Homo sapiens: one gene and its partner. The protein of the gene in region 1 interacts with the protein of each later gene in a pairwise test. Each region holds a gene or a part of one and is shown on either strand. Other genes may lie near its edges.

What was found. Proteins that work in one complex are often made in the same cells at the same time.
Region 2: the proteins of KEL (region 1) and SERPINH1 interact in binary tests that used the Homo sapiens proteins (3 or more experiments, as listed by UniProt).

The regions. Positions count from the first base shown.
Region 1 is NC_000007.14:142,952,364-142,955,863, forward strand, and holds part of KEL (kell blood group glycoprotein), read right to left. Parts: intron 2,165-3,500; coding exon 2,102-2,164; intron 2,010-2,101; coding exon 1,821-2,009; intron 1,594-1,820; coding exon 1,445-1,593; intron 276-1,444; coding exon 146-275; intron 1-145. UniProt on the Homo sapiens protein: Zinc endopeptidase with endothelin-3-converting enzyme activity. Cleaves EDN1, EDN2 and EDN3, with a marked preference for EDN3.
Region 2 is NC_000011.10:75,568,753-75,572,252, forward strand, and holds part of SERPINH1 (serpin H1 isoform 1 precursor), read left to right. Parts: coding exon 1-77; intron 78-186; coding exon 187-419; intron 420-3,028; coding exon 3,029-3,331; 3' UTR 3,332-3,500.

The sequences.
Region 1 (3,500 bases):
TGCCTGCTTCTATGGAAAGCCAAGACATGGAGGGGCATCTACCATCACGGCCCCCTCCCTGAGAGAGAGATGCCGACATTTACCCCTCAAAAGAGTAGATACTCCTTTCGAGTATCTGGGCAAATACACCCGCTCCTCTCCTCACCATGGGTGGTTGCTCTGTCAGTTCCCGCAGTTTCTGGCTGAGCTTTCTGCGTGCCTCCTGGAATTGACTGTCCAGGGCTGGAGAAAGGGTCACCACCAGCCCTAAGATCATGTGGCTCTGCAGAAAGTCCCTATGGAGACAAAAGAGACCCACACATATACCCCAGGAATCTGGGGATGCTTCAAGAAGAGCCTCTCCTTGTGTAAGTCACCTTGATACTCGTGAAGGCAGCTCCTTCTCCTCTGTATTAATAAGTGTTTTAACATGCACCCAAGTCAAAAAGAGCTTTTCATGATGTAGGTTGGGGTGGGATCTAGCTCCTTAGTAAAAGAAACTAGATGAAGAGGCAGCCTTCAAAGTCACAGGGAAAGAAAGTTCTGGGCTAGATGGAGTCTGGACTCATGTCATGAAACAGATTCTGCTTCCACAGTCAAGATATCTCTGGTTATCCTCAGATGTATCTCATAAGCATAAGTAAGCTGGTCTCTGTGACTGCTCTCTCCTCCACCAGCAATGCTCCTGCCAGGGCTGCATTGCACCCTTATGTAAGCCTGCTCACTGCCATGTGAATGGGCAGCTACCTCCCTCAAAAAGGATTTCCAGATGCTGCTGCCACCATGAAGAAGGCCCTTAGGTCCAAGCCCCTGGAAGAAAGCCACTGCTTTCAGGTGGTAGCCACCCAGGTATCAGGGGAGGCAGAGAGCCCAACAAAGAGCCACTCTTTCATGTCCCCAACCCCAACACCCCCTTGATTTCCTGACACCAGCAGAAATGCTCTTAGACATTGTTTCCCATAAGAGCTCCAGCATCTTCACACCACACCTGAGGAATGGCCCCTCCTCTTCCTTTCTTCCCCTAAGCATCCCCAGCCTTCACCATGTTCATCTCCTCATCTCATGTGCCTCCTCCTCCTGCCCACAGTCCTCAGCTGCTAAAAAGACATACATACACTTAACTGTCTTCTGTGTCTGGGTCTTCCAGCATCTTCTACAGCTCAGAGGCTCTTGACTGGCTGGTGTTCTACTCTCAGGAAACCCCGTGTCTTGGCTGACCCTGCGTTCCTCATGTCGTGTGTATCCTCCCTTACTCGTGCTCCCAAGACACATCCTTCTTGATCCCTCCATCCTCTCTGTGCCACCCACCCCACGCTTCTCTGCCCGCACAGGTGGCAGGTTCCTCTTATCCTCCTGGGAGGCCCTTACCAGCCTGCCTTCCCCAAGGTTTCCTTTGCCCCCAAGATCTACGGTGCTCAGGCTCTCCTCCATTTCCATGATCTCCCCAATCCCACCTGCGGCGAACCTCTGCTTTAGCAGCATCTCCTCCACCAGTTGTGACATGTTTTTCAAATATTCCACGTCATGGACCACGAGGGACTGAGAAGGGCTCAGGGACATCGGTGTGAATGTCGCTTGCAAGCAGGACAACCAGTCGATGGCGGGGGCCATTTCCTTAGAGGAGGGACACAAAGCTGAGGGGGAAAAGGAAAAGAGAAGGAAGGGGAAAGGGCTTCCCCTTGGGTGTGAGAAAAAGAAGAGAACAGGCTAACTGGGGGAGGGGATGGAGTCAGAGACAGAATGAAAAGGTATTAAGGGCACTAGGAGGAAGAAGGAAAGGAGGTAATGTTTGAGAGGAAGATCCCCATGCCCACAGTCTTCTGGCCCCCAGTTCCAGGCACCTTGAGCTGGTCGATAGTGACCATCTGGAAGAGCTTGCCCTGTGCCCGCCGCTGCTCCAGGGGCCTCAGAAACTGGAACAGCCGTGAAGTGATGGAGATTGACAAGGAAGAGTGTTCTTGCACCTTGCTTGGGTCTCCTCCCAGCAAGGTTCCCAGCTGATTCAGGTAAGTCAGGTATTCCCGAAAGATCTGGAGGAAGGAAATGTCAGTCACAGGTGCCAGAGGTCCCTGCTTTTCTCCTGGCCTCAGAGGGCAGGGCCTTTGTCCATGTGCCATCTTACCTGGGCATAGATCTTCTGTTCTTGATCTTGCTTGAGGGGAACATCAAACTCTGGCTGGTCTATCTGGGCACAAGAGAGACTGGAGAGAAGCAGGGAGCATGGCGGATGGAGAGGGCAGGTGTGGGGAGGTGGGGAATATACCATGGGAGATGGCCTTGGGAGATGGACACAAAGATTGGACAGAAGAGAAGCAAGAGTACAAAGAAAGGGAGGGATTAAGGGTTGAGGGGCATGAGAAGAAGAGTCCAGATGTGAAAATGGGAAGAGATGGTGAGTATTACAACCAGTGTGGGTGTGCCCAGCAAGGCAGAAGCATGATAATCAGCATCTTAAAAGGAGCTATTCCTTGTCTCAGGAACAGGGCCAGGGTGAGTGAGGTGAGGAACCTGTCCCAGGTACAAAATCTAAGAGGTACCAAAAACTCAGTAATCAAACTGCAACCTAACTTAGGAGTATATTCTTGCAACAGGTAGCTCCATCTCAGCCAGCCATACCAGCTGATCTTCAGGCAACCACAGGCTGTCAAGTGATCAGACCATGCCCATTAAAGACAATTGCTAAGCTGTAACCAATCAAGCTGTTTCTGGGTGTCACTTCCTCTTTCTGTAAATACTGCCTGCCTGCATTGTTGGGTGGAGCTCTCTGAACCTCTACTGCTTCAGGATGCTGCCCAATTCATAAATCAGTCTTTGCTCAAATAAACTCTTTTTTAAAAAAACTCAGTAATCAAGATAAATAATTAACATTTTAAAAAATCAAAATTACTACCAAAAATGTATGATAAATAAAATCTCAAAACTTTGCTTATCATGGACTTTTTTTCCCCAAAAAAACATACTTTTAGTCAATTTTGAAAAGAATCATGATGTGTTCAAGAAAAGTCCTCAATGTATTTTTGATTCATTTTGAATAAAAAAATTAGTATTTTCAAAAAGATTCACACAGAATTTTGTCCCATTTTTTGGGAAAAAAAGCATAATCTTTTTTCAAAAAAATTCATAATGAAGAAAAGTTTGATATTTTGTTCCATCATGTATTGTTGCATTGATTTTGATTTTTTAGGAATATTTAATAAAATACTATTTATCATGATACTGAGTTTTGGGGACCTTCTTAAATTAGCACCCCAGGTAAGCACCATGTATATTTCACCTTAGTCTGGCCCTGATGAACCCTTGTTTCTATTCTGAAGATCTTTGCTTCTACTCTTTCCCTTTTCTTCTCCAATTTCAATATCCCACTCTTATCTTGAGCCATATACTTTTCCTTCTGTCTCGAAAAAAACTTTCACTTGACCCTTTTGCTACATTGTATGTCCACAGTTCAAAGAACAAAAAAGCATCTATGCCCATTGTTTCCACTTTCTTATCTTCCTCCTAAGCTCTGTGCAGTCTGTGTC
Region 2 (3,500 bases), on another chromosome or scaffold:
CCACAAGATGGTGGACAACCGTGGCTTCATGGTGACTCGGTCCTATACCGTGGGTGTCATGATGATGCACCGGACAGGTAGGTGCTGTGAGGAGCAGGGTGTCAAGGTGGGTGGGGGTCCAAGGGTAGTTGGTCTGACCCACCCCTGCACACAGGGTGCCCAGTGTCCTTTCCGCTCCTCTCCCAGGCCTCTACAACTACTACGACGACGAGAAGGAAAAGCTGCAAATCGTGGAGATGCCCCTGGCCCACAAGCTCTCCAGCCTCATCATCCTCATGCCCCATCACGTGGAGCCTCTCGAGCGCCTTGAAAAGCTGCTAACCAAAGAGCAGCTGAAGATCTGGATGGGGAAGATGCAGAAGAAGGCTGTTGCCATCTCCTTGCCCAAGGGTGTGGTGGAGGTGACCCATGACCTGCAGGTAAGGGGTGGCCCAGCCTAGGGGCCTGCAGGCCTTGGAGCCAGGGGGAGGTGCTTGGGGGACCCACTCACCAATTCAGCAGGTCTGTCCCAAGACCCCCTGGATGTCCAGGCAGTGCTGGGCTCTGTGATGGGGGAAGCTGGGGCAGGAGGTGTGGGCCATGCCCTTGGGAAGATGATGATAATACCAGCAGCTAAATATAACGGAACATTCCTGTATGCTAGGCGTTCTTCTAAGCACTTTATATGTATTATTATTATTTTTTTTTTGAGATGGAGTCTCACTCTGTTGCCCAGGCTGGAGTGCAATGGTGCCATCTCGACTCACTGCAACCTCCACTTCCTGGGTTCAAGCGATTCTCCTGCCTCAGCCTCCCGAGTAGCTGGGATTACAGGCATGTGCCACCACCCCCAGCTAATTTTTGTATTTTTAATAGAGACGGGATTTCACCATGTTGGCCAGGCTGGTCTCAAACTCCTGACATCAAGTGATCCTCCTGCCTCAGCCTCCCAAAGTGCTGGGATTACAGGTGTGAGCCACCGTGCCCAGCCTTTATACGTATTAAACTCTTTTAATCCTCAAAACGACTTTATTAGGTAGGACTATAAGTTTCATCTTAGAGATGAGGAAACTGAGGCTCAGAAAGGTTAAGTAACCTGTGCAAAGTCACACAGCTAGTAATTCAGACATCTTGCACCAGAGCTAACCCTCGGTCACTGCACTGCCTCTGAGGTCTGAAGTGCCCCCAGTTATAGATTGTTTAAGCTAGAGGATTATCTACCATCCAATAATCAGACTGGTAGCTATGGGTCATCTAGGATGGCCAGAAACTTAACACACATTCTCAAGATTCTCCCTTGCAACCACCCTGGGTAGTGGGCAGAGGCTCAGAGAGAAGCAATGACTCCCTAAGGTTCCCCAGGCTCATAAGTGGTGGAGTTGCAATTAGACCTCAAGGTAAAAACATAATAGCCGCCTTTTTGTCAATCGAGAGATATTTTTGACTTACCCAAAAAAGGAAACTTTCGTGTCATTCTTTCCTTGGATGCCACAAATGGTTCTCACCTGCAGAATCGATCCAGACTTGCTGCCCAGAGAGCTTGGAGAGATAAAGCTGGAGATGAAGTGGGGCTTAGGCTCCAAACCAGGGACAAGTGGAGCTCGTACTGGTCTGTGCTGTAGACCCTGGGAGTTCCTGGAGAGGGGTCACTGTCTCTCTCCTGGTCCTGGCCCTGATCCTTCCCCAGCCCCTTCTCCAGTGGCTGTTGTCCCACCCCCTTCTCCCCTTGTTCCTCTGGTGTCTTCCTGGAACCCTCAGTGGAGACCCCACCCCCCAGATATGGGGTAGATTGAGTTAGGAAATTTGAGGCGGATGACGTGTGCAAGGTCATCCGGGTGGGAAGAGCTGGGCCTACCTCGAATGCCTGTCTCATGACCCCCTGACTCTCAGGACCTCAGGCCTAGTTCCTGTGTGGCCTTGCCAGGGAGGTGGATGTTATCCTGAAGAATCCTGGACCCGGATGCTGCCATTCACTCAGCCCACAGCCATTTACTGTCCTCTCTCCTGCATTGAGAGCCAGGGAGAGCGCTGGACATGGGCCCCGCCCTCAGGGAGCTCCAAGCCAGGTGGGAGAGACAGGCAGCACCAGACTGATAACAGGAAGGTCCAGGGAGGCACCACTCATCCTGTGGGCTCGGGAAGGCTTCCTGAAAGAAGTGGTTTCTAAAGAGCCCTAATGGGAGACAGGATGGCCATCCAGGATATAAGCTGTTCTGTGAGGCTGTCTGGAGAGTGGGGTGGGGCGTGCCAAGGGATGTGGCTGGAGGCTGCCACGTAGGCACAGGTCATATGTTAAAGAGCTTATGGTTGGCTTCCAAGAGCTGTGCAGGGCCATGGAAAGATGTTTGTGTGTGTGTGTGTGTGTATGTGTGTATATGTGTTTTAACTTTTTACTATCGAACATTGGAAAAATAAAAGTAGATTAGTGTAATGAAACCTCAAGTGTCTGTCGCCCAGCTTCAAGCATTATCAGCTCATGGCCAATAGTGATCCATTTATACCCACTAATTCCCCCCTGCATCTGATTATTCTGAAGCAAATTCCAGGCATCCTATCACTCTGGACAGGTTTTCAGCCCCAGAGTGATGTGGACATAGTTGTCCTTAGATCAGTCTTTCTCAAACTTGAGTATGCTAAGAAAGCACTTGGGGAGTTTGTGAAAAGGAATCCATGCCCACTCCCAGAGATTCTGATTCAGGGGGTCTGGGCTGGGGTCAGGACATGAGCATTTGAGATAAGCTCCTGGGTGGTGCCCATGCTGTCTGTCCCTGAACTGCAGCTGGGCAGTGCCGGGATACGTTCTCACTTGTTTTTCTGAGTCTCAGCTTCCTCATCTGTGAAGTGGCAATTAGAAGCCCTTGTAGGGTTGCAGTGAGAATTGAGAAAGCTGTGATTTGAAGTGCCAGTGCCATGCCTGGCATACAGAAGGTGACCAGGGGGTGGTTCTCTCCTCTCTGAGGAGCGGTCAGGGTAGTATGGGGTGGAGGGTTTGAGGGTGGAGGAGCCTGGCAGCCATGGCCTCACCTGGCACACCTCCTTGTTCCCACAGAAACACCTGGCTGGGCTGGGCCTGACTGAGGCCATTGACAAGAACAAGGCCGACTTGTCACGCATGTCAGGCAAGAAGGACCTGTACCTGGCCAGCGTGTTCCACGCCACCGCCTTTGAGTTGGACACAGATGGCAACCCCTTTGACCAGGACATCTACGGGCGCGAGGAGCTGCGCAGCCCCAAGCTGTTCTACGCCGACCACCCCTTCATCTTCCTAGTGCGGGACACCCAAAGCGGCTCCCTGCTATTCATTGGGCGCCTGGTCCGGCCTAAGGGTGACAAGATGCGAGACGAGTTATAGGGCCTCAGGGTGCACACAGGATGGCAGGAGGCATCCAAAGGCTCCTGAGACACATGGGTGCTATTGGGGTTGGGGGGGAGGTGAGGTACCAGCCTTGGATACTCCATGGGGTGGGGGTGGAAAAACAGACCGGGGTTCCCGTGTGCCTGAGCGGACCTTCCCAGCTAGA